Linked DNA regions of Homo sapiens: regions 2, 3, 4, 5 and 6 are each reported to be linked to region 1. Evidence: microRNA targets listed by miRTarBase, many of them from high-throughput screens and not tested one by one. Region 1 holds a microRNA gene; each other region holds the end of a gene's coding sequence.
What was found. Region 1 holds the annotated microRNA hsa-miR-125a-3p (ACAGGUGAGGUUCUUGGGAGCC, at 2,714-2,735, opposite strand). A microRNA usually pairs through its seed, bases 2 to 8, with sites in the 3' UTR of a target mRNA and lowers its output. Matches are read on the target gene's strand: a 7mer-m8 pairs with bases 2 to 8, a 7mer-A1 pairs with bases 2 to 7 and ends in A, and an 8mer does both.

Region 2: the mRNA of ZFP69B is a reported target of hsa-miR-125a-3p. The part of its 3' UTR that is shown has no 7-base or 8-base seed match.
Region 3: the mRNA of HSPA4L is a reported target of hsa-miR-125a-3p. Seed matches in the 3' UTR shown: 8mer at 1,756-1,763 and 7mer-A1 at 208-214.
Region 4: miRTarBase lists PFKFB2 as a target of hsa-miR-125a-3p. Seed matches in the 3' UTR shown: 7mer-m8 at 1,256-1,262.
Region 5: miRTarBase lists TTLL12 as a target of hsa-miR-125a-3p. Seed matches in the 3' UTR shown: 7mer-m8 at 4,353-4,359 and 7mer-A1 at 3,353-3,359.
Region 6: miRTarBase lists TPM2 as a target of hsa-miR-125a-3p. The part of its 3' UTR that is shown has no 7-base or 8-base seed match.

Annotation. Positions count from the first base shown.
Region 1 is chr19:51,690,969-51,696,040 of GRCh38, reverse strand. It overlaps MIR125A (microRNA 125a), which reads right to left and starts at 2,787; the gene lies at 2,702-2,787. SPACA6 (sperm acrosome associated 6) reads right to left here and starts at 2,711. Exons shown (of 9, transcript NM_001316972.2): 1 at 2,301-2,711; 2 at 1,486-1,563. The coding sequence starts at 2,514. It overlaps SPACA6-AS1 (SPACA6 antisense RNA 1), which reads left to right and starts at 2,585. Exons shown (of 2, transcript NR_108100.1): 1 at 2,585-3,407. It overlaps MIR99B (microRNA 99b), which reads right to left and starts at 3,429; the gene lies at 3,360-3,429. It also overlaps MIRLET7E. RefSeq lists an enhancer at 4,436-5,072.
Region 2 is chr1:40,462,979-40,468,050 of GRCh38, reverse strand. ZFP69B (ZFP69 zinc finger protein B) reads right to left here. Exons shown (of 5, transcript NM_023070.3): 5 at 4,336-5,072. The coding sequence ends at 4,462. Among named protein-coding and RNA genes, the nearest start is that of ZFP69, 12 kb to the left of the region's middle.
Region 3 is chr4:127,832,179-127,837,242 of GRCh38, reverse strand. HSPA4L (heat shock protein family A (Hsp70) member 4 like) reads right to left here. Exons shown (of 19, transcript NM_014278.4): 19 at 1-4,560. The coding sequence ends at 4,369. Among named protein-coding and RNA genes, the nearest start is that of PLK4, 46 kb to the left of the region's middle.
Region 4 is chr1:207,071,437-207,076,508 of GRCh38, reverse strand. PFKFB2 (6-phosphofructo-2-kinase/fructose-2,6-biphosphatase 2) reads right to left here. Exons shown (of 15, transcript NM_006212.2): 14 at 4,936-5,000; 15 at 1-4,305. The coding sequence ends at 4,138. Among named protein-coding and RNA genes, the nearest start is that of C4BPB, 15 kb to the left of the region's middle.
Region 5 is chr22:43,163,468-43,168,533 of GRCh38, forward strand. TTLL12 (tubulin tyrosine ligase like 12) reads right to left here. Exons shown (of 14, transcript NM_015140.4): 14 at 3,155-4,692. The coding sequence ends at 4,541. Among named protein-coding and RNA genes, the nearest start is that of TSPO, 14 kb to the left of the region's middle. RefSeq lists enhancers at 1-82, 83-585, 4,741-5,066.
Region 6 is chr9:35,678,782-35,683,853 of GRCh38, reverse strand. It overlaps TPM2 (tropomyosin 2), which reads left to right. Exons shown (of 9, transcript NM_003289.4): 9 at 613-922. The coding sequence ends at 695. CA9 (carbonic anhydrase 9) reads right to left here. Exons shown (of 11, transcript NM_001216.3): 7 at 4,512-4,669; 8 at 3,856-4,000; 9 at 3,715-3,741; 10 at 3,020-3,101; 11 at 2,695-2,889. The coding sequence ends at 2,829. Among named protein-coding and RNA genes, the nearest start is that of CA9, 7.4 kb to the right of the region's middle.

The DNA.
Region 1 (5,072 bases):
TAAACGTCCCTGGGACCCCTCAAAGTCACTGCCTTCTAACCCAGCTTATCATCTGCCCCCGGCTCTTTCTCTCAGGCTCCTTATTTCGGTGATGACCCACCGCCCAACAGGCACAGAGCAGGACCTGTCTCAGATGCTGTTCTCTATGCTTCCCAAAACAGCCCAGCAGACCTAACTCTCTGGCCCTGGCCCTTCTCCACCTTCACGGCCCCAGCCCCCACTCGGGCCTCCGCTCTGGCCTGGACCCTCACCCAGCCTCTTCTCTCTCCCCTCCAAGTTTGTCCCCCATGCGGCCCCACAGAAGGCTTCCATTCCCAGATCCAAAGGTTCCTCATCTTTTCAAAAGCTTCTGTAACAAGGCAGCCTATGTGGGGAGAAAGGGCATTTCTTGGAATCCTGCACACCCCCACATGGAGAGGTTTAGGGCCTCAGGTCTCCCTTTAGGGTGGAGATGGGGAGAGCCACAGCTGAGGCCTTCTCCAGGCTGGCCCTGGATGCCCCCTGGGTGGATGGGAACCTTCCCTCTTCCGGGATTGTTGACAGGACGCTTGGAGGGCAAAGCAGGAAGCAAAAGGAGCGACTGTGGGTGTGGGAATAAGCCCTGAGCTCCTGGACCTAAGAGGAAGCCAGTTTATTCTATAGCGCAGGGCTCTGTAACTCCTGCAACTCCGAGCCTCCACAGTTCCAGGGTCTGGCACCTCGTGGGGATCATGGCCATGGTGATCAGGCATGATTACCGCCCATGCTGCCCATCGGCATTGCGTGGCCCCCAGCCCTGAGGTCTCTTCGCACAGCCACACACCTCAAGGCTGTCACATGTGCCTGTCTCACCAGGACAGTCACACCTTGTCTCTTTTCACTGCTGTCACCTGAGTGATCCACTCTGCTGTTCCTGTTTTCCCGCCCTCTAATTGCCTCACACCTCAAAAATGTGGAATCACTTTATAAGAAATCTGTGTGTGTGTGTGAGTGTGAGTGTATGTCTCTGAGCGTGTCTGTGTGCGAGTGTGTGTGTGTTCTATCCTAGAGGAAGATGCCTTCCCTAAGATCAGGCTCATCAGGCAGCCCCAACCCCTGCACTGAGCTCCATGGCCATCCTAGGAGGCAAGAAGATTGTCCCACTTTACAGATGGGTAAGTTGAGGCCAGGAGAGGGGCAGTGACACACCCAGAACTTCATAGCCAGTAAGAGTGTGAGCCATGCAGCCATGGCAGAACCTATGCCTACCCGACCCCATCTGGACTTCCAGCTCTAGGCAATTTCTGCAGCGTCCCTTCCCCCTCACCACCTTCAGCCCCTGGCTCTTAGAGCTGCCTTCAGCCTTCGTTTGGACAAGTAGCTGAGCTCAATGTCTTCCCAGCTTTCCCCTCCCGGATCACTGCCCAACTCTGGGGGCCTCCTTCCTCTGCCCTGGGCCCTCCCACATACCCATTTCTTAGGGGCTCCAAGTCCACATCTCCCATCTCCCCATCCCCACACACTCACCCTGGGCAGCAGCCAGCTCCTGCAGGGCATGGGTCATCTGGGTGAAGGTGTCATGCAGGTGGCTTCTCTCATCATAGTCTGGCGGTGAGGGAGGGAGCAGGGGCTGGGGGAGGCAGCTCCCCGCAACACCATGTCCCTAATGCGAACATTCTGTTTCTGAGTCTCTGCCCTCCCAAGTCTGTATCCTCCCCTCTCTGACTCTTTGCCCCACAGTCGCTATGCTTCCTGAGTCCCTCCCAAGTCTCTATCCTCCCTGAGTCTCTGCCCCCGACCAGTCGCTATCCTGCTTCCCCTAGTCTCTGCCTCATCTCTGTCCTCCTCTCTCTGGGTTTCCATCCTCTTTGAGTCTCCATCTTCCACCCTCTGAGTCTCCATCCTCCCCTCTCTGGGTCTCTATTCCCTCTCCAGTCTCCAACCTCTCCTGACTCTCCATCCTCCCCTTTCTATGAGTCTCCATCCTCCTGACTCTCCATCCTCCCGAGTGTCCATCCTCCCCTCTCTGACTCTCCATACTCCTGAGTCTCCATCTTTCCGAGTCTCCATCTTCCTCTCTCTCTGAGTCTCCATCCTCCCCCTCTCTGAGTCTCCATCTTCCCCTCTCTGACTCTCCATCCTCCCCTCTCTGAGTCTTTGCCCTGCTGTCTTCCCCTGTCTGTGTCTCTCTGTCCCTAAGTCTCTGTTGTTCTCATGGTCTTTGAGCCTTTCTCCTCTGACTGTTTCTCTCTGTCTGTCCCTCAGCCTGACCCTCTGGGCCTCTCCTGCCCTCCCTCTGCACCTTCCCCAGGACACTGATGAAGTGTGGATGGTCTCCTCACTGATTTCGGTGTCAGAGAGGCCCTGGAAGGCGGCCGTGAAGGCCTCCTCACACTCTTCAAGCTTGGGGCTCCGCATCCCAACAAACATCTGGCAGATGCGGAGGCGCTCAGAGTAGGTTGTGAAGCAGAGGAGACAGGCCCAGGCGGGCACCCTGAAGACAGCCAGGGCCAGCAGGGCAGACGGGACGGCACTGGCCAGAGCCAGCAGGGCCATCGTGTGGGTCTCAAGGCCAGGGGAGAAGCTAGTAACCTTTATGAAGTCACCACAGGGCGGGGGAAGGGCCAGTGGTCTGGGGTCAGAGGTCAGGTTTCAGTTGGTGGTCAAATGTCATGCTCTGGAGGAAGGGTATGAGGAGTCAGGGGTCAGAAGTCAGGCCAGCAATTCCCCAGGTGTGTGGTTGGGCCAGACGCCAGGCTCCCAAGAACCTCACCTGTGACCCTGGATGTCCTCACAGGTTAAAGGGTCTCAGGGACCTAGAGACTGGCAACATGGTGTGCGGTGGCCCGGTAGACCCTGGGGTGGGGGTCAGAGATGGAGATAGGCACAGAGACATTCTGAGAGCCAGAGACAGAAAGACCAAAAACGACAGAAATAGAGACACAGAGAGATATCGGGAGGGGCAGAGACCTAGAAAGCCAGAATAAGAGGGAGTCAGAGGATCCACTGTGAAAGAGACACAGAAGCCACAGAGACACAGCAGAGATGGAGACAGACAGGGAAGGAAAACAGATTTCAGGGGAAGGAGGGGATGCAGGGACAAGGACAGAAAAGAGCCCGGCTCTTCCTCCCAGGGTCCCTGGGGCAGCCCAGTGGGGCTAAGGGTCCCTGAGTGGGGCTGGGGGTCCCCGCCGGGCCCCGTCCCGTGCAGGGCGCAGCCTGGGGAAAGCTAGGAGGCCGTATAGTGATCTCCTTGGGTGTCCTCCTCAACTATACAACCTCCTACCTCAGCCCGGGGGGCGCGGCAGGTGGACAGACCCGACAGACAGACAGACAGGGACCAGGAGGACCAGGGATGAGGGGGAGGGCCGGGGAGGCCCCAGCCGCGATGGTGAGCCCCCGACACGGACCCACAGACACGAGCTTGTGTGCGGCGAAGGCCCCGCAAGGTCGGTTCTACGGGTGGGTGCCAGGACCCAGGAGTCCGGGCCCCCGGCCCCTCCTCCCCAAGGAACCCAGGAGTCCAGGCCCTCAGCCCCTTCCTCATCAGGGACCCTGGAGTCAAGGCTCTCATCCCCCTCCTCCCTAAAGAACCCAGAAGTCTAGGCCCTTCCTCACCACAGACCCAGGAATCCAGGCCTCTGGCCCTTTTCTCCCCAAATGTTCCTGGAATCCAAGGACTCAGCCCCTTCCTCCCTCAGACTCATGAGTCCAGATCCAAAGCCTCCTTCTCCCCAGAGACCCAGGAGTCCCTGCCCCCAGCCCCTCCTCCCTCCGGCCAGGCAGGCCTCCTGGGGAAGGCATGGCCTGATAGAAAACCTGGCTTCCTGGGTGCCGGCTGGGAGGGAACCTCATTTGTCTCGTAATTTGGCCCTTTGGGCACACCTGCTTCCTACCTACCCTCCTGTCAGTCTGCAGAGACTCCAGGCCCAGGGCTAAGGAGGCCAGGGGCTAGCCAACCATCAGAGCCTCCCTAGGTGCTTTCTTTCCTCTCTCCTCCCTTCTTTGGGTCATTTACAACTATGACAGCCACAATCTCCCAGCGCTGACCCCATACCAGGCCCTGAGCACCAGTCCTCTCCCTGACACCTCCCACTCCAGAGAGCGAGGTGCCCTCAGCATCCCCATTTGGCAGGTGAGGGGGCTGAGCCTCAGAGAGGGGAAGAGGCTCCCAAAGTCTGCCCAGCCCCATCTCTGTCCTCCCTCTTGAATCCAGGAGGTGTCCCCAGCCTTCTCCAGCTTCTGGACCCCGGGACCCAGCACCCACCCTCCCCACCCCTGGGCTCTGAGCCCCTCCAGCTGGGGTCTCTCCCGTGCCCAGCCCCTCCTCCTGGACTGTCTGGTTCTCGCTGCCCCTGCTCCAGGCGCACCTTCCGGTTCCTTTCTCGCAGTCCAGGTCTCTCTGGCCCTGCCTTTTTCTCTCTCCCTCTTTCTTTCCACCTTCCCTGGTTCCCAGCCTCCTCCTGCATCAGGACATCCCTCCCTGGCTCTGCGCTGGCTTCTCTCTCTGCCCATCGCCTCTCTCCTCTCCCCGCTTCTGTTTTCTTCCTTCTCTCCCCCTCTTTCTCCTGCTTTTCCTCTACCTTCTGTCTTTCATCCTCCCCTTCTCCCCCTTCCCCCTCTTTGTCTCTCTCATTCTCTCTCTGGCCCTCTCTCAGTCTCTCTCCTCTTTCTCACCCTTCTCCACCCCCTTTTTTCGGATGTCTTTCCTCACTTCCTCTCCCTCCGCCCCTTCCCTCTCTCCATCCCTCACCTCCGTCTCCTGCTCTCTCTCAGTCTCTGTCTCTCTCCCTCTCTCTCTCCTTCCCTCCCTCTTAGGTCTCTCTCTTTCCTCCCCTCCCCCTTCTCTCTTTGGGTCTCCCTCCCTTCTCTCTCTCTCTTTTCTCCTTCCCTCTCTCCCTCCCCCTCGCAGCTCGAGCCAGGTCTGGAGCTGGGGGTGGGGTGGGGGTGGTTTGAGAAGGGGCCCAGGGCTGGGGTAGCGACCTGAGGAGGGGGAGGAGAGGCGGGAAAGGGGCGGAGGAGGAAAGGGGGAGGCGGGGGCCGGAGACGGGTCTACGGCCAGCTCTCTTCCCCCTTCCCTCCTTCCCAACCTCCCAGACCCTCAGGCGGGGGCG
Region 2 (5,072 bases), not on the chromosome of region 1:
GGCATGAGCCACCACGCCCAGCCTGCCAACTAGTTTCCCCAGAGGATTCCTCCAATCTCCTGCTGGGGTTGGACGGAAGATGGTTGAAGGGATGAAAACTTGGTTTTCATTAGAAAAGAGTGCTGAGGGCCCCACAGTTCAATATGCAGCCTTACATTAGTCCCCATTTCAGCCATATTTTTACCCCAGTCTCTACTGTCTGGTGTCCCTGATTCTAGAACAACTCTGGAATCAAGGACACCAAAGTCAATCCACAAATCACTAACATGACATGAAATTTTTACTGGCACATAGTGAAGTGAGAAAAGTAAGGACAAATTTGGGAATTTGTCATAAAGCTGATATAATATACAGGGCTGCTCCTGGCCGGACATGGTGGCTCATGTCTGTAATCCCAGCACATTGGGAGACCGGTCCTTCACCAGAGAATAAACCTCTAGTCTCCTTTGGGATGAGGAAAGGGTAATGGGATGAAGAAAGGCATGAGGGAGGAATGTGTGCGTAACAGCCAGCTGTATGGGTAGGTGAGGGGGTCTAAGGATCTGACATTAGAATTTCAATGAATCCCCATTTTCAGCCCTCTTTCTTCCATAATGCCCACTGTCTCCAAGGCCTCTGTCTTCCCAGGAACATCCTTGTGCCAGTATACTTTTCTGCAGGCTCTGCTAAGTCAGTCACCACTCTTCTATTTTCTCACCACCAAAAACTTGACATCTCATGTCTGCTTCTATATTCTCCTCTATTGTCTTTTATACCCTCCAGTTTGCTTATGCACTCAGGTTCATGAAATAAAGATAAACTCATGTTGTTAATCAGCCACATTTAAATGCATTTTAAACAAATTAGGCTGGGCACAGTGGCTCATGCTTGTAATTCCAGCACTTTTGGAGGCTGAGGCAGGTGATTGCCTGAGCTCAGGAGTTTGAGACCAGCCTGGGAAACATGGCAAAACCCCGTCCTACAAAAAATACAAAAATTAGCCAGGTGTGGTGGTATGTGCCTGTAGTCTCAGCTACTCAGGGGGTTGAGGTGGGAGGATCGCTTGAGCCCAGAAAGTTGAGGCCGCAGTGAGCCATGATCATGACGCTGCACTCCAGCCTGAGCAACATAGTGAGACTTTGTCTCAACAAACAAACAAAAACAACCAAACCAAATTAACACAGAAATACCCTTTTATCTTAAAGTATATCAGCTATGATTCTCAAAGGTATACGATTCTCAAATATTGGTCCACTTGCACAGAAAAGAAAAAGGAAACAAAAAATATTTCCTCACATATAAAATGTAGGTAGGAAAGTATATGGATTACATTTCTTTACTTGCATCATGGATACATAGTTCAATTCAGTTCAAATCAAAACCATTCAATACATATTTACTGAGTCCCTTCTGCGTGTCAGGCACTGTTTTAGGCACTTGTGATATATCAGTGAAAAAAACAAAGGCCCCTGCCCACATGGAGCTTACATTATAGCCAGGGGAAACAACAGTAAACAATAAACACAAATATGTGAAGTATCTAGGGTGATAGGTGATATGAAAAACATAGAGCAGGTGAAAGGGGTATGGGATTTCTCGATCTGGAAGGTAGACAGCTGCAGTATTAAATAGTATGGACAGGATAGGCTTCAGTAAGAAGGCAACAATTGAGCAAAGATGAGAAGGTAAGGGTATAGGGCATCTGCAACAGCTAGTGAAACGGCCCAAAGGTTAGAACAAGGCTGGAGTTCGGGAGAGGTCTGGGCTGGAGATGTGAATCTGGCAGCTGTTAAACAGAGACGGTATTTTAAGCCAAAGACTGTATGAGATCACTGAGGCAGGAACTACAGAGAAAAGTCATAGTCATGTCTTTCAGGGAAATAAGCAATTGGAGAAATTCAAATTCTTGGGAAATCTAAGACCATAGAAACATGGTAGAACAATTTTAAGAAACAGTGTATACCTCACTCTTTTTCTGCCCATCAGTCATACAGGACTTAAGAGTTAGAGGCCAGCTTTTTTTTTAAGTAAATGTAGTAATATGAAAAATTCTAGAGATACTGGTATATATTCTGGATTTATAGCTTTACTTTAGATAATTCACACTTATAATACTCACGTGATTGAAACTGTTCTATCTCCATATAAAACAAAGAAGTTGAACTTGACTTACTTCCAATTATGTCTGTAAGGATGGAGTATCTATTTCATTAAGTACAGTGAAGCATTAGGAGCCAATTCCTCTGCTTTCTCTCCGTATTTCCCTGCCTGAGTATGGCTCCTTCAGTCACCTTTCTCTGGTCCTCTTTGGTGGGCCTCTTGATGTGTTGTTCTAGGGGCTATCTTAAGAGACACTTCCACTTGATACAAAGCATATTTCAAATCTAATGTTGTATGCTTGGCAAAGGAAAAGGTAAATAAAGTTATCTGAAAGGTTTCTCCCCAGAATGAAGTCTCAATATATCTCTCTTCAAAAAGGCATCATTATGTTTTAAGGAATTGTGGTTAATTTTTGTAGGTATAATAATGGCATTGTGGTTATGTTTTCAAAGAGTGCTCGTTTTTTAGAGATACATCTCAAAATATTTATGGATTAACCATAATAAAAAACCGATCATTATAGAGGGAAGTCTGCATAAATATCTCCAAAAATAATTCCTAGGCTCCAAGACAGCATTACAAATGTAGCGTTTAAAGAATTATTGCAACAAAAATACTAAAGGAATTGCTAAGGAAATAATTTATGGCATATACACACACTAATCTGATACTAAATGATAGTCTGTTGTCATTTCTAATCATTTTACATACTCTATGGGGGGAGGAGTGAAAAATGACAGCCCTTGAGCCAAACGAAACCTAACAGCTGTTTTTTAAATGCAGTTTATGGGAACCACTATTGCACACATTCATCAGTGGGTCTCAACCAGGGACAATTTTGGCCTCTAGGTACACCTGGCCATGTCTGGAGACATTTTTGACTGTCACAACTGGGGGAGGGGCAGCTATCAGCATTGAATGCTGGCATCTTGTGGGTAGAAGCCAAGGATTCCCCTAAACATCCCAGGATGCACTGGGCAGCTTCCTATAGCAAAGTATTATCCGGTCCAAAATATTGGTAGTGCCAAGGTTCAGATACTGTAGTTTATATATTGTCTCTGGCTGTTTTGTACTAAAATGGGGAAGTTGAATAGGTGTGACAGGGACCACATGGCCCACAACACCTAACGTATTTACTATCTGGCCCTTTACAGAAAGTTTGCCAATTCTTGCTCTATATAAAACCATAAAATATAAATAAGCATCTCGTGTACAGTAAGTTATCTATCAATGCTAGAAAACTCCCTTTAACATTTTTTCTTCTAGAAATGAGAAGCAACATTTTAATTTCTACCTCTTCTAGCCATATAAAGGGCTAGAGTAAAAGGCTGTACTATATTTTATTCTGATTTATTAAAGGGATACTTAAAAGAGTGTTTCTCAAAAGTTAATCCACAGATCACTAACACGCCATGAAATTTCACTGGCACATAGTGAACTGGGAAAAGTAAAGATAAATGTGGGAGTCTGTCATAAAGCTGACGTAATATAACAGGCTGTTCCTGGCCAGACACGGTGGCTCATGTCTGTAATCGCAGCATACTGGGAGACTGAGGTGGGAGAACTGCTTGGAGCCAGGAGTTTGAGACCAGTCCAGCAACATAGTGAGACTGTCTCTACAATAATAATAATGATAATAATAATAATAATAATAATAATAATAATAAATTAGCCAGACATGGTGGTGCACATCTGTAGGCCCAGCTACTTGGGAAGCTGAGGCAGGAAGACTGCTTGAGCCCAGGAGTTTGAGGCTGCAGTGAACTATGACATCACTGCACTCCAGCCTGGGCAAGAGTGAAACTGTTTTTTAAAAAAGGGTCTGGGTCGGGGGTGGGGGAGGGGCAGGCACGGTGGCTCACACCTGTAATCCCAGCACTTTGGGAGGCCGAGATGGGCGGATCACCTGAATGGTTCGAGACCAGCCTGGCCACCATGGTGAAACCCTGTCTCTACTAAAAATACAAAAATTAGCTGGGTGTGGTGGCAGGCACCTGTAATCCCAGTTACTCAGGAGGCTAAGGCAGGAGAATTGCTTGAGCCTGGGAGGTGGAGGTTGCTGTGAGCTGAGATCACGCCACTGCACTCCAGCTCAGGTGACAGAGCGACTCCATCTCAAAAAACAAAAAAAAAAAAAAATGGAGGGGGGAACTGTTCCTACATTTAAAAATATTAAAATGTCCTTTCTTTTCTGAAACAATGCTGATAATAGGTGTTGTGTTTTTAATATGGCAAAATTAAGAGTTGGGAACATTGTGCCAAACCATTTTTTTTTAATGTTCGTTTTTGGAAATCCAAAAACAAATGGATTTTTGAGGGATCAGGGAACCACTGATTTAGAATCTTGTGCTCCAACATAGATTCTTTGATGTTTAGTATATTTCACACAACATTGCTGAAGGTATTTCTTAAATGTGTTTTGCAGTGTCTAATAAGGGATGAACTACAGCTGAAGGCTTTTCCACACTCATTACAATCATAAGGTTTTTCTCCAGTATGAATTCTCTGATGTTTAGCAAAGGATGAATCATGCCTAAAGGCTTTCCCACAATGACTGCATTCATAAGGTTTTACTCCAGTATGGACTCTCTGATGGATAGAAAGATGTATTCTCTGGCTAAAGGCTTTCCCACATTCCTTACATTTATATGGTCTTTCTCCAGTATGAGTTCTCTGGTGTTGAGTTAGGTATGTACTATGGCTGAAGGTTTTACTACATACATTACAAATATAGGGTTTCACACCAGTATGAATAATCTCATGTTGCCTAAGGTGTCTAATCTGGAAAAACGCTTTTCCACAGTCTTTGCATGTAAAAGGTTTCTCTCTAACATGAGTTCTCAAATGCTGGATCAGTCCAATGCTCTGGCTGAAGGCTTTCTCACATACCCTACATTCATAGGGCTTTTCCCCGGTATGAATTCTAACATGTTGAGTAAGCGATGAAGGATGTCTGAAGGTTTTCCCACACTCCTTACATTCATAGGGTTTCT
Region 3 (5,064 bases), not on the chromosome of region 1:
TATGGTGGCTCACGCCTGTAATCCCAGCACTTTGGGAGTCTGAGGTGGGTGGATTACCTGAGGTCAGGAGTTCAAGAGTTCAAGACCAGGCTGGCCAACATGGCAAAACTCCATCTCTATAAAAATACAAAAATTAGCTGGGTGTGGTGTCATGCACCTGTAGTCCCAGCTACTCAGGAGAGGTTGAGGCAGAAAAATCGCTTGAACTCAGGTGGTGGAGGCTGCAGTGAGCCTAGATCACCCCATTGCAATCCAGCCTGGGTAACAAAGCCATACTCTGTCTCAAAACAAAAAAAAAAATTTTGTAAACTTTTAAAAACTGAGAAAGTTATATTTTACCAATAACTTAAGAATCATTTCTAAATCTATAATTTGTAAAATTAATGCAATGACTTTAATTGTGGACTACCAAATACCAACTATTTACTATAAAACAGAAAATCCTAATGGGAGAGGCTTATTATTTGTCAAATTTATGAAAGTGGAGGAATGGTTGTATGTATTTAGGGTGAAAACAAAATCAGTTAATTTGATTACTATATTCAAATGTCTACTACCTTTAATAAATATAGATTTTTCAAAACAGTTAAAGATGGGCTAATTTGGATTAAGTGCTTTAACACTGACATTATGTTAAATTATTGAGCCCCAAAATTCTCTTTAAAGACTTCTATCATGGAATTAATCACAAATATACTAAAAATTGACGCCTCCCTCCCAAAAAAAGTCTAAGAAACCTTTACTTCTTTTAGCTCTTAATATACTAAAAATTGACACCCCCCCCCAAAAAAGCATAAGAAACCTTTAATTCTTTCCTTTAGCTCTTCTTAGTAAATGTCTTGTTTTCCTTTTATGTTTTTGTTTTGTTTTGTTTTTGAGATGGAGTCTTGCTCTGTTGCCCAGGCTGGAGTGCAGTGGCGCGATCTCGGCTCACTGCAACCTCCGCCTCCTGGGTTCACACCATTCTCCTGCCTCAGCCTCCTGAGTAGCTGGGACTACCGGCGCCCGCCACCATGCCCAGCTAATTTTTTGTATTTTTAGTAGAGACGGGGTTTCACCGTGTTAGCCAGGATGGTCTTGATCTCCTGACCTCGTGATCTGCCCGCCTTGGCCTCCCAAAGTGCTGGGATTACAGGCGTGGGCCACTGCCTTTTATGTGTTTGAGACAGGGCCTCACTCTGTTGCCCAGGCTGGAGTGCAGTGGTATGATTATGGCTCATTGCAACCTTGACCTCTCAGGCTTAAGTGATCCTCCACCTCAGCCTCCTGAGTAGCTAGGACTACAGGTGTGCACCACCATGCCTTGCTAAGTTTTTATTTTTTTAGAGACAGGGTCTCACTATGTTTCTCAGGCTGGTCTTGAACTCCTGGGTTCAAGTGATCCTCCCTTCTTAGCCTCTCAAAGTGCTAGGATTACAGGTGTGAGTCACTGTGCCCAGCCTTGTTATCCTTTTCAAAATCAAGTTTATCTGTTATTTCAATAGCCAAATTCTTTGCTGTGCTCTTTCTAGTTTTTTGGAAGAATTTTTGTTTTTTTTTTGAGACGGAGTCTTGTTCTGTTGCCCAGGCTGGAGTGCAGGAGCACGATCTCAGCTAACGGCAGCCTCTGCCTCCTGGGTTCCAGCGATTCTCCTGCCTGAGCCTCCCGGGTAGCTGAGATTACAGGGACATGCCACCACGCCCGGCTACTTTTTTGTATTTTTAGTAGAGACAGGGTTTCACCATGTTGGCCAGGCTGGTCTTGAACTCCTGACCTCAGGTGATCTGCCTGCCTTGGCCTCCCAAAGTGCTAGGATTACAGGCGTGAGCCACAGCGCCTGGCCAAAACTTAATAATTTTACATTACTGCTAAGGAATTATCACAAACTTCCATTATATTATTTAACAATTGTTTTTTATAATCACAGTACAACTATCAAGAGTTGGTTTCTAAAACCACAATTTACACTTTTCCACAGAGCCAAAGTATACTAATTTATATTAATCATTCCAAATATTCCCTACAAACTTCATTCTTATTTGCTTACCATAGGAAAACACTGTTTTACTATGCATCTTTTAAAATAATTTCTGAAATAATAGCTTTTTATTTTGAAAATCTTTGTCTAGCATTGCATATTTTAATGCAGATTAAAATTGGACTGAATTAGACTGTCTACCCAAAGCTGCATTAAAGAGAGCACTCTCTTTCATTAATGAATTAAATAAATAAATACATTATAAGGCTAAATCGTTTTTGAAATCTTTTAAGTTGAATAATTGGGTAGAAAAAGTATATATATTTGGATGTATATAAGTTATTAAATGAAGTGTTATATAATTACAAAAATTAGTGGTACTATCTGACTAAAACACAAAACTAAAAGTGACTTCAGAGCAGGAATGGAAAATGTCAGGATATACTAGAAAATTTAGATGTATTAATAGAAAAGTTGTTCCCATATTTACTCCCAGGAAGTTTCTGAGGCATAGCTCCTAACCAAGTGAGTGGATGTTTTAACCCAAATAGAAGCTCTAAAGTCCCTACTTGTATTGTTACATATTTGCTTTCATTATCTTCATGCTTTTCTTGAAATGAATCTGTACATTCAACATACAAATAAAAAGCATCTATGTTTGTAAAAAATGTATTTCATCACCTATTGGATATACCTATTTCATTTTAAGAGAATTAAGAGAAAGTTTAAAGACTAGGAGAGTTTAAAAATATATTAAGTTTATATGATTTTTTAATGCAAAAAAGAGATTCTTCCCCTCAAAAGACGGAATAAAAATCCCTGCAAAATGCACTACTCCATACTCTCCATTAAGTGCTGACTACATTGTAGAAACAAAATCTCTCGTAGAGAACTAGTTGTGAGAAATAATGACTATCCCTAAAGATATTGTACTCTCAATTTTTACAACTTAAGTCAATATTTAATTGTTCCTAATATAAAGATTTAGCTTTGGGAGAAAATGAGCCTTTTGAAATTTTAACCTAGGTCAATCTAGTTGATTGGCATTAAGGACATAAGGGCTCATATACTTGTCTATGCTTCTGTCTCTTGCAGGTTGAAACACCATTTCAGTCTGTTCCCATACTTAAGCAGTTTCAGGTCTCTGGACAGAAATTAACAATGTGAACAAGTTGGGTGATGAAGCACAGATAAAGTCCTTAAAATACATCTTAAGTTTACAGTCCCTTTTCGCATTTAATTTGTATAAGAAGCACCAAAACTGGAGCCAAGGTTTCAAAAGGTAATGTTAACAGCAGGAACTATAATTTAATCACACAACACTATGTAACATTCTATATTTTTGCCTGTTGATATGTAACATAGTTAAGTTTATTACAAACATTATTTCCTAAGACTTATGGTATAAGTGCTCCTTTTCAAGTATTACCACTTAATAGTGTTTAATCTACAAGGTAACATTAGGTAAATCAATGATAAATGTATATAATGCAATACACTGTGCCACTTCTTCCTACCCTGTGTTAAGGTATTATTAACAAAATCAATTAAGAAAAAAACAAGACAACTATTATAACTGAAACAAGGCTATGAACATCACAGATGCATGTCTGAGTAGATAAACAGCATTTCCCCTTAACATGAAAGTCATTTTGTCAGAGACTCCTGTATCTTTAGGCTAGCATTGTTTTAGCAGCAGCTAGTCTTCAGGACAAGATCAAAAATTTCAAGCGAAAAGACAACGAGTTACTCTGAGAAAACATCAATCCACATTACTAATAAAAGAAGCAAACTGCTGGTTTCACCTTAACATAAAATTGGGTGTGTTCCCTTTCACATGTGATTTAATTCATTTATGTGATGACAGCAAAGCTTTGGATTTCTGTGGTACATCAATGAGATGGACTAATTTGTTGAGAAAGCTCTTATTTGTTTTAATATTTAAATTGTAGCAATACAATAACTAGAAAAAGGTCAGTGCCTCTGTAGCTTTAAACCCCATCAATTTTCATTTGTTTTTCAAAATAAAGATGCAATTAAATCTATGCTTCTGCAACAATAATGCAATAAAGTATCCTTTCCTGAATAAAGGAATTGAGGTTTATCCCAGTAGAAGCTTTAAATAAGGTAGACTGTTGCCAACTATGTATCCATCCTGTATGTTTGATATATAAAATTATCCGGAAAGCTTAGATTGTCTTGTAAATCTAATTCGGCTAACACTGCATATAAGCAGCAATGGAAATGAACAGAAGTGCACTCAATATAAAACACTTTTCAAAACTACTCCAAAAAACAAATGACAAAAGTGGTTAAGAACAACTGAGCGTCTGTTGTGTGTACCAGATGTAAAAGATGGACCCCGTGGTTACTTGCACGGTTTGAATTAATGTGAAGGTAAAATTAAGACTTAGTCCACTTCCATCTCTCCAGAGGATTTAGTATGCTGTGAGCTGTCTTTTGTTGAATCTGATTTAGTTTCAGTTCCACTCTGTCCATCCATTGGGCCATTGTGTTCACTATTAGCTTTTGGTTTGTCTTCAGGAACTTCTGCTTTTGGTTTGGGCTTGTAAATGATGGGGTTACAGAAATTATCCAGTTCCTAAAGACATGAAGAAATTGATTATATTAAAACGATTACAGAACAAGTTACCATTAACTTTCTAAATTCCACATTAACTTTCTAAATTTTCACATAATTCCCCCTTTCTGAATTTGCTCAGCTAGATAGCCAACTGTTTTCTTCAAATGCCTCATGAGAGATTTACCTTGTTTGTTAGTATATGTCTGTGGCAGTCAAAAATTATTGAATCTTAAACAATTATTTTTTGTACTTAACCTTTCTAAAACTTGTTTCTTTATAATCAAATACAGTTTACTTTGGCAGGAATAATTTTTAATTCTTCCTTTAAATTACGTGTAATGCTTTGCTATGAGAATTACATCAAATAACACCTATTTCATAAACTGAAAATTTTCAACATTTATATGAAAACAATTCTAATAAATGGAATCATACAAATACATACACAAACGACATTTTTTTTTGTTTGAAAATAGCTGAGTAGCCTCTCCTGAAGGAAAAAGTGCCGTGAAAGTAAATTGG
Region 4 (5,072 bases), not on the chromosome of region 1:
GCAACCCGACTCAGTTGTTACATATTTTCAATAAGTCAAAATACATAGAAAAGCTGGGTAAATCTATCAAATTTCTTAACAATGAACACAACATGGCTTCTGGGCTTGGCAAAGACAATGGAATGTGCATAAGATTACATAACCCAGATACAATTCTTCTGATTACTGGATACTTTTTCCCGTGCCCATTGGCCACTCCAACCACCAATGAGTTTCTGTCAATTAAGATCTCCTGCTCATAAAAAAAAAAAAAAAAGAAAAAAAAAGTAACATAGATGAATTTATTTCCAAACAGCTATATCATATGTTTCTTCAAAATGCCAGTGTCTCTGAAGACCAAATGTGGGTTGCAAAGAGGATTACCCAGATCCTCATATGGAATACTCACCCATTCAGTCTAGGGGTACAAATATATTGTGTCCTTAACTCCAACTTCTTTGGAAACAAACAAACAATAACAACAACAACGAAACACCAGAGGCAAAGATATAGGGCAGATCCCTAGCACAATGCAAGTTTTTAGAAGCTTTTCTTATTCTACTTTAAAACTCAATGTAAAAATCATCCCTTTACCAAAACAAAACAACAATACAGATAAGAGCTAAATTACAATTTAGGGATTAGGAGATAAGAAGAGAAGCAGGTTCTCTAAATCTGCTTTAGAATTCTCTTTCAAATCTGTCATAGTCTTGAAGCAAGAATAAGAAAACAGAATAATTTCCCTTTCCCCACTTTAGACAAGTAAATTTATAAAAAACTTTTTTAGAGGTGAGGTCTCACTATATTGCCCAGGCTGGTCTCAAGTGATTCTCCTGCCTCAGCCTCCCAAGTATCTGGGACTACAGGTATAAGCCACAGCAACCAGCTTATTCCAGTAGATTAAATGCTAATGTCTTTACCTATTTCTCACAAAACAAAACTTACAGCCTCAGCAGAGAGTACTTTTAAGTCCATTTTTATTTTGTAGGACTTGTGATAGACACAGTCATAGTAATGTATACAGATTACCAACATGCATTCAAGTAAGACCAGGAGAGAAAAGATGAGAAGTAGAGCTGAAACTTCTCTAAAATTTGGAGTAAGAGCTCTTTTCCATTCTACATTCTCCTGGCTTCTTCCTGCTAGACTTCTCTGAAGGGATCTTGCTTTAGAAACTAAAGGATGCTGAAGCCCTTGCTTGCCAAATTCCAATTTCTCATGTCCTATCTGAGGATAAGACCACCTCAGCTCCTCTTCTGGAGAAAGCGAACTAGCACAGGTGAGAGTGGGGAAATAACAGCAGGCTGAGAGCCAGAATGAACATCCCAGTGACCTGTCTCTAATGCTGGGTTAATGACAGGTTAACACAATGCTAGCTTGTTAGAGAAGTCCCCTTTTGCTAAGAGTGGGTACAGTGTTAATCCAAAGTCTGTGGATCAAAGTGCTCCCTCTTCTCATTCATTAGGTCTGAATTACTCTTACCTCACAGCAGAAGAAAAGACTGAATGCCCATTTGGGCTACAGATGCCACCATCCAAGCAAATGTGGACAATGCAACCTTGTAAAAGTGCCAAACACGCCTCCCCAACCATATCTCATTCTCACACTGGTGGTGGTGGGGGCATCCCCATCCCCCAACCCCTGTAGTCTCATAGCCATAGGACAACAGAAAAGTCAGGAGAAGCGATGTGATGGTTGAACACTTCTAGACTCAGACTGTTGCTATATTGCAAATGTCCATTTGTTATAAATTACATGTCCTGTCTCTTAAAATAACCTTCCTCTGGACAAGGACCTTTTCTTCTACTTCTGTTTAGCTTTCCCCTATCCCTGCCCCTACCAGCCCAAAGCTCCACAAAGACACTAAGTACATGTTATGTAACCACTAAACAGGAATAGCAGGTTACTTAACATCTTGGACACAATTTTGAGAAGAATCTAGGTAAGCAGCCTTTAGAAGCTGCCTATGGTATCCTACTTGGGACATACGAGTAAAGGACCCGGGGTCAGGAGTCAGTTGCCAGTGATGACAACCTTTATCATCCTGGCAGGGTCTGCACCTCTCTCCAGGGTGCTTAAAATCCCCAGCTGCTCTCTAGAGACAATTATTTAATTCAGTGATTTGTTCCACATCACTCAGCAATGTAAAGGGTTAAAGATGGGACTAGAACCTAGAATAACCCTCTAAAACACAGCAGCCTGCCTTCCAGGGGGTTATATCATTTAACATTATGATCTGCTCAAACATCAAACCCAAAGAACTGTCCTTTCAGGACTATGAGGAATTCAGAATTCCTAGGCTGACACTTTTGTCTGAGAAACTACTATCCAGTATTTTTCCACCTAACTTCCTAAGGTGGAGTTCTTAACCCGAGCTATGAATCAGAATCATCCGGGAAGCTACTTAAATACATGCATGTCCAGACCCAGATCCCAGAGATTCTGAGTCAGTATTAAGCATAAGGTGGACACAGGCATGTTTATGATTCAACAATCCTAAAGGCAATTCTAAGGAATACTCCTGGATGAGAACCACAGCAAAAAGTCTTCCATTACCAAATGAAAACACCCTTGGAAAATAGCTAACTCCTTCTCACTGGTTACCTCTAAAAGACCAGCAGATAACTTTAAGGTGGGGAGTCACCTATCTCTTTTTAAAATCCCATGAGAACCCTAAACTTGCCTCTCAGAAAAACATACATATATTCGTACATTTTGCATGCAAAATTGGGAAAGAGAATAAGCCATCATGGTCATCAAGGGGCTAAGAATTTCTTCCCTAAACATTTTCTGTTTAACCCTACAAAGAAAATGAAATGACAGAAGTGAATAGAGAAATACAAACAGTTACGAGCTAGATCCCACAGGGTTCCAAGGACTTCTCTGGACATCAAGATGAGATAGTTTCTCTTTATGAACAAAAGAATACTCCAATGAGAGAGATTAAATTCATCATCAAGCTTTTCCACATTTGGGAAAAAAATGGTCATGTAAAAACTATTTTGTTTTGATGTTTCTTTCTTCTTAAGGACAGTGTGCTGAAATTATTCAAAAATAAGCAGTTTTAGTGAACTCTTCTCTGCCTCTTGCCTTGAGCAACTCAAACATCAGTGGTGACTCCTGAATCTAACTGCCCTTCTAAACAGCCCCAGAGGATACTGGCTTTGGCAGGAAAAGTTGCTGTGATTGGCAAAGAACCTGAGAGTCATGGGAGAAAAGACATGACTGCTCTCTAAGAGCCCTGCAAGAGCTAGAGCCCACCCTACTCTCCTAAACCCCACTCTGCAGACCTCAAAAGACCCAGGCCTGACTCTAAATTAAAAATAAAAACCAAGACATTTCCCACATGCTCAGAGCCAGATTCTCCCAGGGCATCGAAGACTTAGAACTGTTTCTCATGAAAGGAGGCAAGAACTCTCACCCTATGTCTACTTGCAAGCTCCAGAATATTCTGTGGATGTCCTGTAGTCTGGGCTGGCCCTTACAGGACCTGGCTGGAGAGGAAGGGAGAAAGGAAAGGAAAGACTCCTCCAGTCCAGATCCATTTAGACCCACTGCAGAAAGCATTAACTGGGCCAGACTTGTCTCTTGTCAATCACCCCTTCCTTCCTAGACAGACACCACAATGCCATGCATTACACTGGACAATCCAGAGGGGACATGAAAGTGGGGGAAGAAAGCAGTCAAGTAAGGAGTGTGAGGAAAACACACATTGAAGAGACAAAAGTGAAGGAAAAATAGACTTTTTGTCCCCCGACTGCTCACCCGCCCTCCATCCCCCAACACTTCACCAACATGAGGACATTAGTGAAGACACCAGGGAACAGAGAGAAGATCCAAGAGTGTGGGGCATGCTCAGCCCCAAGGGAGTGTATCTTTTTCCTCCTCCTCCAGATCATCCCATCTGAGAATCTGTCCTAAAAGACTCAATTTGCTAACTTGCCCCTGGGTGAAAAGATGTTTCAAACTGAAGAACAGCTTAAGTTGTCCTATAAACACATAACCTCATGTTCTGTGTTAAGATTAATGGTGAAGTGTCAGGGGTGGGCATAGAGGGAGGAAGTTAATGACTCCTTGGTGATTAGTGACAAGGGCAGGAGGCCAGGGCTGGAGGGAAACACACAGTTACACCACCGGAATGCTGACTTGGGTCTTCGGCTAGTCGGCCCCTTCTTGCATGTCCTGGGCACGGAGAGGGCTGAGGGGCTTGAGGGGCCGGCTCCCAACACTGTAATTTCTTGGACGCCTTATTGTATTCGAACTGGACAGAGGCGTAAAGCTGTTCCTTCTCATCCTTACAGGGGTTTGGTTCTTGGGGAAGTTGTTCTGATTGGAAATGGAGTGACACCACACAAATGAAAGCCAAGCCAAAAGCTCACTCATACAGGTTAATAATGCGCTTGTAACCACAACAGCTTCCCTCACTCCTGCTCCTCTGCACACAGGGTCCCTCACAGGGCATGGCCCATGGCCTGGCCTCCTAGCATCAGGGGGCTAAAAGGGAGAAGCTCCTTGAGCATAACATTCCAAAGCAGGAAAAAGACCCAAAGAAAGGAAGGGGCTTATTGAAGACCACACAGATTACCAGTGACAGACCTAGGAACAAACCTACACCTCTTGACCCCCACCTTATAGGCTCCTCTGGACTCTGCTTTCTAAAGGGACACTTGGGGTTGGAGGGGGGTAGTAATTTGCATTTCACTTCAGCCAAACACTTTCCATATTTAATTGGATTTCCAGGAGCCAACATTCAAGGTTAAGACTCATGAAAGGGGTACTAATTTAAAAAAAAAATAATTCCAACATCAGTTTCAGACGTAGCAAACTACATTTGGACGTAAGTTCTGAATCTGTTTCCCTTTTGTACATAAAAGAAACCCCAGTCTCTTGATGTCAAAGCTTCAGAGACTCAAGGTGGCAGGGAAACTGGTGTGTTCATCGTGGGAAAATACTTACAGTTGGCTTGTCACGGTGCGTGTTCACAGCCTCCACGTTAAGTTTAATTGTTTCCACTTTGCACCCTGAGAAAACAGAGGAAAGAGAGGACTTAAAGAAAAAGGTTCAATGGAAAATTCCTTAGTTATGGGAAAGTA
Region 5 (5,066 bases), not on the chromosome of region 1:
TGGGGCCGTGGGCTTCAGCAGAGGGAGGGGGTCCTGTCCGCTTCCCATGGCTTCCGGGATGCTCAGCCCGGGCCCTTTAATGGCCGGGCCCACAACCACTGTTCGACGCCTGGTCCTGCCCAGTGCGTGGCCCTCAGCTGCTTTTACCCAGGACAGAGTTGGGGGTGCTGACTGCCCTGTCCCCCGGGGGCCCAGGCTTATGGCAGCCTCACTGCACCAGGGATAGCCCCGCAAACACCCAGTTGGCTCGAGGGGGAGTCAGAGGCAGGAAAGGTTAGGTCCCGACTCCAGCAGACAGGGCCTCCTTGCTGGCCCAGAGCGGCCAGGATTGGAGGTGTCACAGCCACTCACTCCCTCACCCCGGCTTCGAACTGGGTGACCCATGGCCTCTCCAGGCAGCTGTTTGGAGTAAATGAGCCGAGTCCCATACGCAGCACTCCTCCGTCTTGCTCTCGGTCACCACACCCATGCAGCACTCAGCAACACAGCCCGCGGCTCCCTCCCCTCGGCCAGGCCTGACCTGCCGGGCTTTTTGTTTTTTGTTTTTGGCAGCTAAGTTCATTCAAATTGGCAAAATGTTCATAGACAGCTCGTCATCACTCAACAGCCCGCGGCTGCTGCTTCCTCTTTTCTCCCCCGGCTCCTGTGTCCTCTCCCGACCTGTACGCTCAGACACAACCTGACGTTCACAAAAGCTTGGACACAGTGGCTCACACCTGTAATCCCAGCACTTTGGGAGGCTGAGGCGGGAGGATTGCTTGAGGCCAGGTGTTTGAGACCAGCCTGGGCAACATAGGGAGACTCTTGTCTATACCATCCACTCTGGTGCACGCACAACACACACACACACACACACACACACACACACACACACGAAAGAACGAACAGCTCAGGGAAATGGGTAGACAGTCGACTGCATTCTTCTGACAGAAGGGATGGCTCCCGCCCAGGGGCTGCGCTACTCCACCCTGACCCTCAGCCTCCCGCTCCCTTGACTCTGGCAGAGTTTGATGCCCAACAGATCACGCTCTGCAGGATCCAAAAACTCTGCGGCCACGGGCACTCAGCTGAGCCCTCAGCCCTCATGGCTTTCCCGATGCTCACCGGTGCAGAGGAGCCAGCTGGGGAGCCTCTGTGTATCCTTTTTATTAACTTATTTCTGAAGTTCTCCAAGACGCCCAGAGTTGAATTCCTCCAGAGCTCTGTGCAGACAGTCCAAGCAGCGGATGGCAGAGAGGTCCTTGCTAGCAAGAAACTTACAGGCCAGGCTGTCTCCTGCTCCAGCATGCCGGTGAGCATGCACCGTCCCCGCAGGGCACAGGGGTATCCTTTGAAGTGTCAAGGGACACCTGAGTCCGTGCCAGACACTTAGGGATTGGAGAAAGTGCAACCCAGACTTCTGCCATCTCCGCAACTCGTGGGGTTGTTCATCTGTAACAAATGTCCCACATAGCTCCTGCTGGCCACAAAACACGCACTGCCACAAAACGCCTTGGAAAAATGGGCGAGAGGAGAACGCATTTAGCATTTCGTCTGCCGGCTTCCTTTTAACAGCCTGGCGACGTTTCCCCAGGAAATGCTCGTAACAGACAGCATTCTCTCCTTTTCTAAGCTGCTGTCATCCACTGGGAACTTAAGGTTTTGATGCTTTCTGAGTGGGTTTATTTATTATTTTTTTTTGAGACAGTCTTGCTCTATCGCCCAGGCTGGAGTGCAGTGACGCCATCTTGGCTCACTGCAACCTCTGCCTCCCAGGTTCAAGTGATTCTCCTGCCTCAGCTTCCAGAGTAGCTGGGATTACAGGTGTGTACCACCATGCCTGGCTAATTTTTGTATTTTTAGTAGGATGGGATTTCAACACATTGGGCAGCCTGGTCTCCAACTCCTGACCTCAAGTGATCCGCTCGCCTCAGCCTCCCACAGTGCTGGGATTACAGGCGTGAGCCACTGTGCCTGGTCAATTCCGGCTTTGGATGGCTTCTTAACACAGTGATGAGGGTGCAAATGAGTACCAGGAAGAAGTATTTAGTGGGATAAACATCTCCCGGCAACTGCCTCAGCACCTGGAGCCGGCTGGTCTTCCGGCTCATGAAGTCCCTGGCTCTTGGCCTTCCTTGGGGGTGTCCATTTGCAGTGAGCAGAGGTGCAAGGACATGTGGGGACAGAGAATAGCCATCTACAATCATGGAAAGCCTGGACCATGTGGTCTTGATTCTGGGGGCTGTCCCAGCTGCTCCCTGGGCAGGACTATCTCCTGGGCACCAGGTTTTAAGTGAGCTGGGAACTAGTGAGAGCACCAGCTGTTAAGCTTCTGGACAGAGTCCGTGTGAGCATCAGTCCTGAGACCTGCCCTGGAAGGGAGGCTAAGGAGAGAAGCAGCACAGTCCACAGGCAGCCTGCCTCAGGGCCGCTCTGCCTTCCGCTTTTTTTTTTTTTTTTTTTTTGAGACGGAGTCTCACTCTGTCGTCAGGCTGGAGTGCAGTGGTGTGATCTTGGCTCACTGCAACCCCCGCCTCCTGGGTTCAAGCGTTTCTCCTGTCTCAGCCTCCTGAGTAGCTGGGACTACAGGCGCGCACCACCATACCCGGCTAATGTTTGTTTTTTTTTGTATTTTTAGTAGAGACAGGGTTTTATCATGCTGTCTGACTGTCTCGATCTCTTGACTTTGTGTGACCTGTTCTCTGTCCTGCCTCGGCCTCCCAAAATGCTGGGATTATAGGCGTGAGCCACCATGCCTGGCCTGCCTTCTGAGTCTTAACCTCCTTGGTCACCATGTGGCGCTGCTTCCACCCACTGACGGTGTCCATGCACCTGCTCAGCAGTGGCCCGAGGAGCCCTGCAGACGCCCCAGCAGCCAGGGTTTCTCACCGTCCCCACCCCAGGACAAGGAGGCAAGTGTGGGGAGGCTGCTATCTCCAGGGCCACTAGAGCTGTGGGGCCACTCGAGGACCGAGGCTCCCGGCCGGCTTGGAAACAGATCCAGCACATGGAAATCAGACTGTGGGGTGGAGGCCTGCGATATAAAGGCCATCTTATTTCTTCTCCCACTTTTTGTGGGTGACTTCTTGGTATCCGGGGCTTTTCAGTGACAGCCGGGGCGACAGGCCAGGCTGAGCCTGTGGCTCCAGGGTCCAAAGAGAAAGGAGGGCAGAAATAAGAGAAGATGGCCTTTATTGCAGCACGAACTGAGGGGGACTGCATGTCCACAGCTCTCCAGGAGCTGCCAAAGGCGACGGGCCCGCCCTGCCCCTGCAACAGGCCCTCCAGGGGCTAGAGCATGGCTCCCCTCAGGAAGGGTAACGCGTGCTTGTAAACAAGGGCCCAGACAACACAGAGAGGAGAGGCAGCATCATCAGGTGCAGCTTTGCTACAAGAAAGATAGTTCTTAATTTCAAAGAGGAGACACCGCTACACCTAGCCCTGCCCTCCCATGCACTGGAAGGCTCTGGAAGTAGCTCTCGCCTGCCTGGGCAGTTAGGTCCACCCACTGCCCGTGAGCTGGGCCCAGGCACACTGCAGCCACACAAAAACGCTGGCAGCTGACTCCTAATTTCAGAAACACAATTAGAAAAGAACTGGAATTTTACATTTTTCTCCCATACATTAAAAAATAAGAAAAAGCCAACATTTTGACTGTAGACCCTGGTAGGTGGCATCTGACTTTAACCTGAAGTTCTCATTGGAATCCTTTTCTGTCTGGCGCTCCACCGCCCACAATCAGCCCCAGCCCCAGGCGCCCCTTGCCGAAGGATCCTGGCCCATCTCACACAAGGGCGGGACCCCGTGGAGTGCCCGGCGAGCAGGGCAACCACTGGGAAGACAGATACTGATTTCCCTGTTGGGGTCTGTGACCCTCAGCAAACGAAAAGGAAACGGTAACAAGACGGTGGCCTCCTGCCAGGACCTCAGCAGGAGGTTTGCTGGTGAAGGTTCTGGGTGAGCTGGAATGGGTGATAAGGCGGGCTTGCTGGGTGGTGGCCTCAGGCTGTTCCTGGGCCCCTGTCGCATAGAGCCCTGTGGGTGCAGTGTGGGGCCCCACAGCCGTCCCGGGGTCGTCCTGATGCATAAGAGCAGAGACCCCGGAAGAGAAACCCGCCTGCCCCGTGTGATACAGGGCTCCCAAACGCTTCCCGGTGGAACCCTGCTCCCGAGGACACCTTGTCTCGCTCCACGGAACCCTTCCCCCAGCACCCCCTGGAAACACAGCAGCCAGGAACAAATTCTCCATGCCAGGAACAAAGCCCTTGGCTAAACTGGAGACTCATCAGTGCACAGATGGTGGTGAGGGGTGAGGGCAGGGCGTGGGGTGGTGCTCAGCCCTGGGGACACCATCACTGTCCTGCTCTGACCCACAGGTGAGAGGAGGATGCTGTGCTCCCGGAGTGTGGCGCCGGGAGGATGGCTCGGCAGGACAGAGGCCTGGGGCTGAGGCTATGCCCAGGGCCGGTGTGGGGAGGGACATGGGGGCCTTTGCAGAAGCAGCTCAGAGAACTGAGGTTGGAATCCTGCCCCAAGCACAGGTTTTGGGGACAGCGAGTGCCTAGACAAGGCAGGTAACGTGGCAGCCACCGGGCTGGTCCAGAAACAAGGTGCTGAAGACGTCGTTGAAGAAGGTGGGGTGGTACCTGCAGGCTCGCTCACAGTCGGGGTTGAAGTTCACCTCCAGGATCTGCGGCTGCATCACCCGCCTTCCTGATGGCAAAGAGCGCAGCAGAGTGTGAAGGCTCGTTGGCCTCCACTCTGCAGGGACAGTGGCCTGGGGATCCAGCAAAGGCTGGGAGGCCATGAACCTGGGCCCTGATTCCCAGGGGATGAGCAGGACAAGGCCGGGCCTAGAACTTGGGTCTCTTGACTTTGCTGGGGAGGCCTGGCCTGACATCTGCTTCTCTAGGAGAGGCCAGGGCTGCCTCCAGCCCTAGGGATGACAGCCTGGCCCTTTAAGCTTGGATGTTCAGTTTAGTAAAAAAAAAAAAAAGTAGATATGCAGCAGCAGTGTACTGTGTGGGGGTCTGGCACAGGGAAGGCCAGCCAGGGTGGTGTGGGTTGGGGTCAGGGTGCCTTTCACA
Region 6 (5,072 bases), not on the chromosome of region 1:
GTAGAGTTCTAGTGCAGAGACTGGCTTATTAACTAGAGAGCTGTTGGACTGAACATCTAGGTCTGCATGACAGCACTAATAGAAAACACTATTTTAAGCTAGATTTGACAAAAGCAAACATCCAGATATTTGTGAGTCTGTGGCTATTTCTATTGTTAATGATGATGTGGCTAAAGTTGCCTTTCCTTTTTATTCTGTGATAACCCTTTCACTTTCCCACTTCTCTCGCTTCCAGCCTTCTCAGGCAAGCTCCAATTTTACCTCCAGCTTTAGGAGGTTTGCCCTTTCTGGCTCCAGCACCCTCCCTCTCCCCTCTAAGCAAGCACTCCTGCTTGTCGAGAGCATTGTACACACAGCTCCCTGGAGAGGCAGGAGCTGCCATGGGTAGAGCCAATTTGGGGTACAGAGAAGGACAGAAAAGAGATGGGGTAGAGATGGGGAGAAGGAGTTCCTGACAGCTGTCCAGCCTGTTCCCTGGCCTCCCTCTCTCACTCTGTCTTTGTGTACCTCTGATTCTGTTTTTCTTTCCATTGCTCTCTCTCCTTCCTTTCCTCTTTCCCTCCACTCCCTTTCCCACACTCCCACCTGGTCCCCTCCCTGGACCCCCCCCAGATGAAGTCTATGCCCAGAAGATGAAGTACAAGGCCATTAGCGAGGAACTGGACAACGCACTCAATGACATCACCTCCCTCTGAGCCCCACGCCAGCGTGGCCACCTCAGCTCTCTTCTCTCCTCTCCTTTCCATTCTCTCTATGGGGAGGGGAGCAGGCAGGAGGAGCAGAAATTGCCAACATTGCACAGCCAGGCTGGGAGCAGCCTAGGGAGAGCCCCCATCATGCCCACCACCCACTCTGGCACTGGCTTCATCCTTTACCTATCCCCTTCCACCCTCCTTTGCTGCTTAATAAATTCTGAACTTGGTCTCCATGCTGTTTTCCTGCCCTCCAGAGAGCACCTCTATCGCCACCACGGAGCACTGGTTCACTCCTGACACCCTGGCACTTACTGACACCCCCAGCCCCTGCACTGAGCCCACCCACAAAACACCATGGCCCACGCTGAAACCCCTCTGCACAGGCACTCCCTGGCTGTCGCTCTCTGATTCACCACTGCATGTGGGCACGTGTGGCCCCATCAAACCATGACCGCCTCTGGTGCCAATCCCTGACCTCAGAGCACTTAGCTGGGGTTCCAGGATCAAACAGAGTGACTGGAAAGGAAGTAGGGTGGTGAGGTGCAGGACAGGGGCAAGAAGGTTGCAAAAGGTCTGGAATGGAGCTTGGAAAAATGTTGGATATCAGCAACATGGGGCTTTCACTGCAGCAGCAGGTCTGTTTTCTACCTCAAGTCTGTCTGTCTGGCCCTTCCTTTCCTGGCGCAGTCTTTGTCTTACCTTCTGTCTCCAACTTCCTTAAACCTTCTAAAGAAGAGGATAAAGTAGTTTATGACTCAGCCCTCCCCACCCCACCTCTATGACCCCAAGGCCTTGAGTGAGGCATCCACGTCCGTCCTGTTCCCCTCATCCTAGTCAGTCCATCTGTTTGTCCCTGCCAAGGGGCCCTGAGGTCCGTGAATGCATGTGTCTTCCTTGACCCACTCCATGTCTATATGTCACCTTCCCCTGGCCCTGCCTCCCCACGTCTCCCCCTTGTGTCTCCCTTCTCCCTCACCTGCTGCTTCCCCTCACAGAGACCTTGGCCAGTGCCAAGGAGGAGAACGTCGAGATTCACCAGACCTTGGACCAGACCCTGCTGGAACTCAACAACCTGTGAGGGCCAGCCCCACCCCCAGCCAGGCTATGGTTGCCACCCCAACCCAATAAAACTGATGTTACTAGCCTCTCAAGGCCCTTTAATCCTTTCTTTGGTGTTGGCAATGGAGTTTGAGGGACCCCTGAATGAGCAGGGCCTGGGTCCTTGCTCTGCATTGGGACTTCCTTTTCAGGGGAAACTGGGATGGAGGGCCTGGGCTCATTGAGGAGGGGCTGTGAACAGGCTCTGTGAAGCAGGGAGTCTGACAGGACTGGGGGACATCGTGGGCCTTGTGCCCTACAGGCAGAGGAGCTGCCATCCATAGCACCGCCCTGTTCCAGCAGCCAGCTGGGCCAGACAGCACGTCCTGAAGCAAAAACTGCAAGAAGTGACACATTTTCCTTGAGCAGGGTGAAAACCCAAAAGCCTGAGTGTGATGTTAAGCCTAGGGCTGCTGTCTGCCCTACCCCTCAACACATACACTGCACACACACACAAACACACACACACACACAGCCATCCCAACAGTATCAGTCATTTCTGTCCTCTTCCTGATAGCATCTGTGGTAGGCAGAATAATTCCCCTTCTCCAAAGATGTCCATGTTCTAATCCTGTGCATTGTTCTTATCTTACATGGGAAGAAACTTGGTGATTAAGATTTTGAGATGGGATGATTATCCTTGGTTATCTAGTTAGGCCCAGTGTAATCCCAAGGGTTCTTGAGGAGACAAGGAGGTCAAATGTGGAGGTAGGAGTTGTGACAATGGGAGCAAGAGATTGGAGTGATGTGTGGAAGGAGGAACAAGCCCTACTGACATCTGACTGCTGACCTCCGAACTGTAATAGAATAAATGCATTACCACTAAATTCGTGCTAATAACAGTAATAGGAAATTCAAATACCATCCTTCTGATTTGGGGAACAAAGGTGACTAACACATATTTTATTATAAATATTTATTTTAAAAAATTTCTTGGCAGTTAAAAGGAAGTGGCATAATGAGCAGGACAGGACAGTTACCGGCTCCCCCTCAGATGCCTCTGGCTGGCTTCTCACATTCTCCAAGATCCAGCCTCTAGGCTCCAGTCTCGGCTACCTCTGCTGGGCGGTAGCTCACACCCCCTTTGGTTCCCCTTCTGTGTGTACACAACAGGAAAGGCTAATCAGAAAACTGGCCCAGGAGCAGCTCATTTGCATGCGCTTTGCATGAAGTGACTCCACAAGGGTGGGGGAAGCTTGTGCCTGAAGAAAGGGTCAGTGTAATACCTGTGCTGCCTTCTCATCTGCACAAGGAACGCGACGCTGGTGACAGCAAAAAGGAGGCCAAAAACCAGGGCTAGGATGTCACCTGCGATGGAGAGCAGAGAGGGCTGCTTTGGGAAGGAAGAGGGGTCTGCAGAGTTCCTCAACACCTGCCTCAGTGCACTCCACCACCCCTGCCCCGAGTTCTCAGGCAGCCCCTAGTGCCTCAGTCTCCAGAAGAGGCCAGCCAAGGGATGAGGGTGGATACACGAGAAGGGGTAAGATAAGCACCGTTTTTGCTTCCTAAAAGCCAAGTAAAAGGGCCGTTTGGGGCCAGGCACAGTGGCTCATGCCTACAGTCCCAGTGCTTTGAGAAGCTAAGGTGAAAGGATTGCCTGAGCCTAGGAGTTCGAGGCTGCAGTGAGCTATGATCGTGCCACAACACCCCAGCCTGGGCAACAGAGTGAGACCCTATCTTTAAAAAAAGGGGGGGGATTGTTTTGCGAGAGGGATGCTGGGAGATTTCTCAAGCTTCATTCTAATCAATTAGCCTCTGGGGACAATGGGGGAATCCCCACCATGATCTGCCTCTCTAATATTGGGGTTGGGGTCTGTTCTGCAGAAAAGGAGAGGGAGCAGAGGCGGTCCTGAGCAGCCCTGGGGCTGAATGGTGCTGAGGAGTCTCCTGGCATCAGGACCAAGAGGAGGGGCAGACTCACCAGCAGCCAGGCAGGAATTCAGCTGGACTGGAGAGAAAAAGGAGATGTGAGAGGCGGGCTGTGACCACCAATGACAGACACTGGCACACACATGGGAGGATAAGGGACTACTGGCTGGGGGGAAACCAGACAAAGCTGTACCTGGCTCAGCAGCCCGAGGACTGCTGTCCACTCCAGCAGGGAAGGAGGCCTCAATCACTCGCCCATTCAAAGGCTGCGTCGCTCGGAAGTTCAGCTGTAGCCGAGAGTCACCAGGTCCCCACAGGGTGTCAGAGAGGGTGTGGAGCTAGGGAGGTCAGTGGACAGTGTGGGTGGGTTCATGGCATGACAGGAAACAAGGGTCCCAGGCCAGCTCACAACCAGCACCTCAGGGCTCCACCCTCCAGCTCCTGTATTCCCCATCCAGCCTCTTGATTTCTTTTATAAATAAATAAATGTATCCTAAAGATGGTAGGCAGTGGTGGGATCATAGCTCACTGCAGTCTCAAACTCCTGGAATCAAGCGATCTTCCCACCTCAGCCTCCTTGAGTAGCTGGGACTAGGCGCATACCACCATGCCCGGCTATTTTTGGTTTTGTTGGGGTTTTTTTGGTAGAGATGGGGTCACACTATGTTGCCCCGCCTTGTCTTGAACTCCTGGGCTCAAACCATTCTCCCACCTCAGCCTCCCAACGTGGTGGGATTATAGGCGTAAGCCACAGAGCCCAGCCTTGATTTCTTTCTTCTCCTGTTTCTCATCTCATCTTACATCCTCTTTCCCCCGCACCCACTGTGTCCACACACACCCCAGGCCCACCTGCTTAGCACTCAGCATCACTGTCTGGTTAAACACAGTCCAGATGACACCCTGGGCACAGGGCGGTGTAGTCAGAGACCCCTCATATTGGAAGTAGCGGCTGAAGTCAGAGGGCAGGAGTGCAGATATGTCCAGTCCTGGGACCTGAGTCTCTGAGCCTGTGAAGAGGATCTATGTTGGGGTCTCATCTACATTGCACCCCCTTAAAGCTTCAGGGTATAGGGATACAGTTTCACCTCCCAGAAGCCAAGGTAACTCAACTCTGAGACCACTTCTTCGCTAAGTGCAGGCCCTTCCCATAAGACGTAACTCAAAAAAAAGTACAGGGCTTTGGAGCAACTGGAAGAGGCCTGAGGAAGCAAGAGAGGAAGAAAGAAAGGAAGGAGAGAAGGGAAGGTGGGAGGGAAGGGAGGAAGGAAGAGAAGGAAAGAAGAAAGACCGTCTGAGTCTACACTCTTAACTCTGTGTACCATCATAAAGTGCTGGGCCACAAGTTTAAGCCCAGAGCAAATTAAAAAGAAAAAATGAATCCCAGCACTTTGGGAGGCCGAGGCTGGTGGA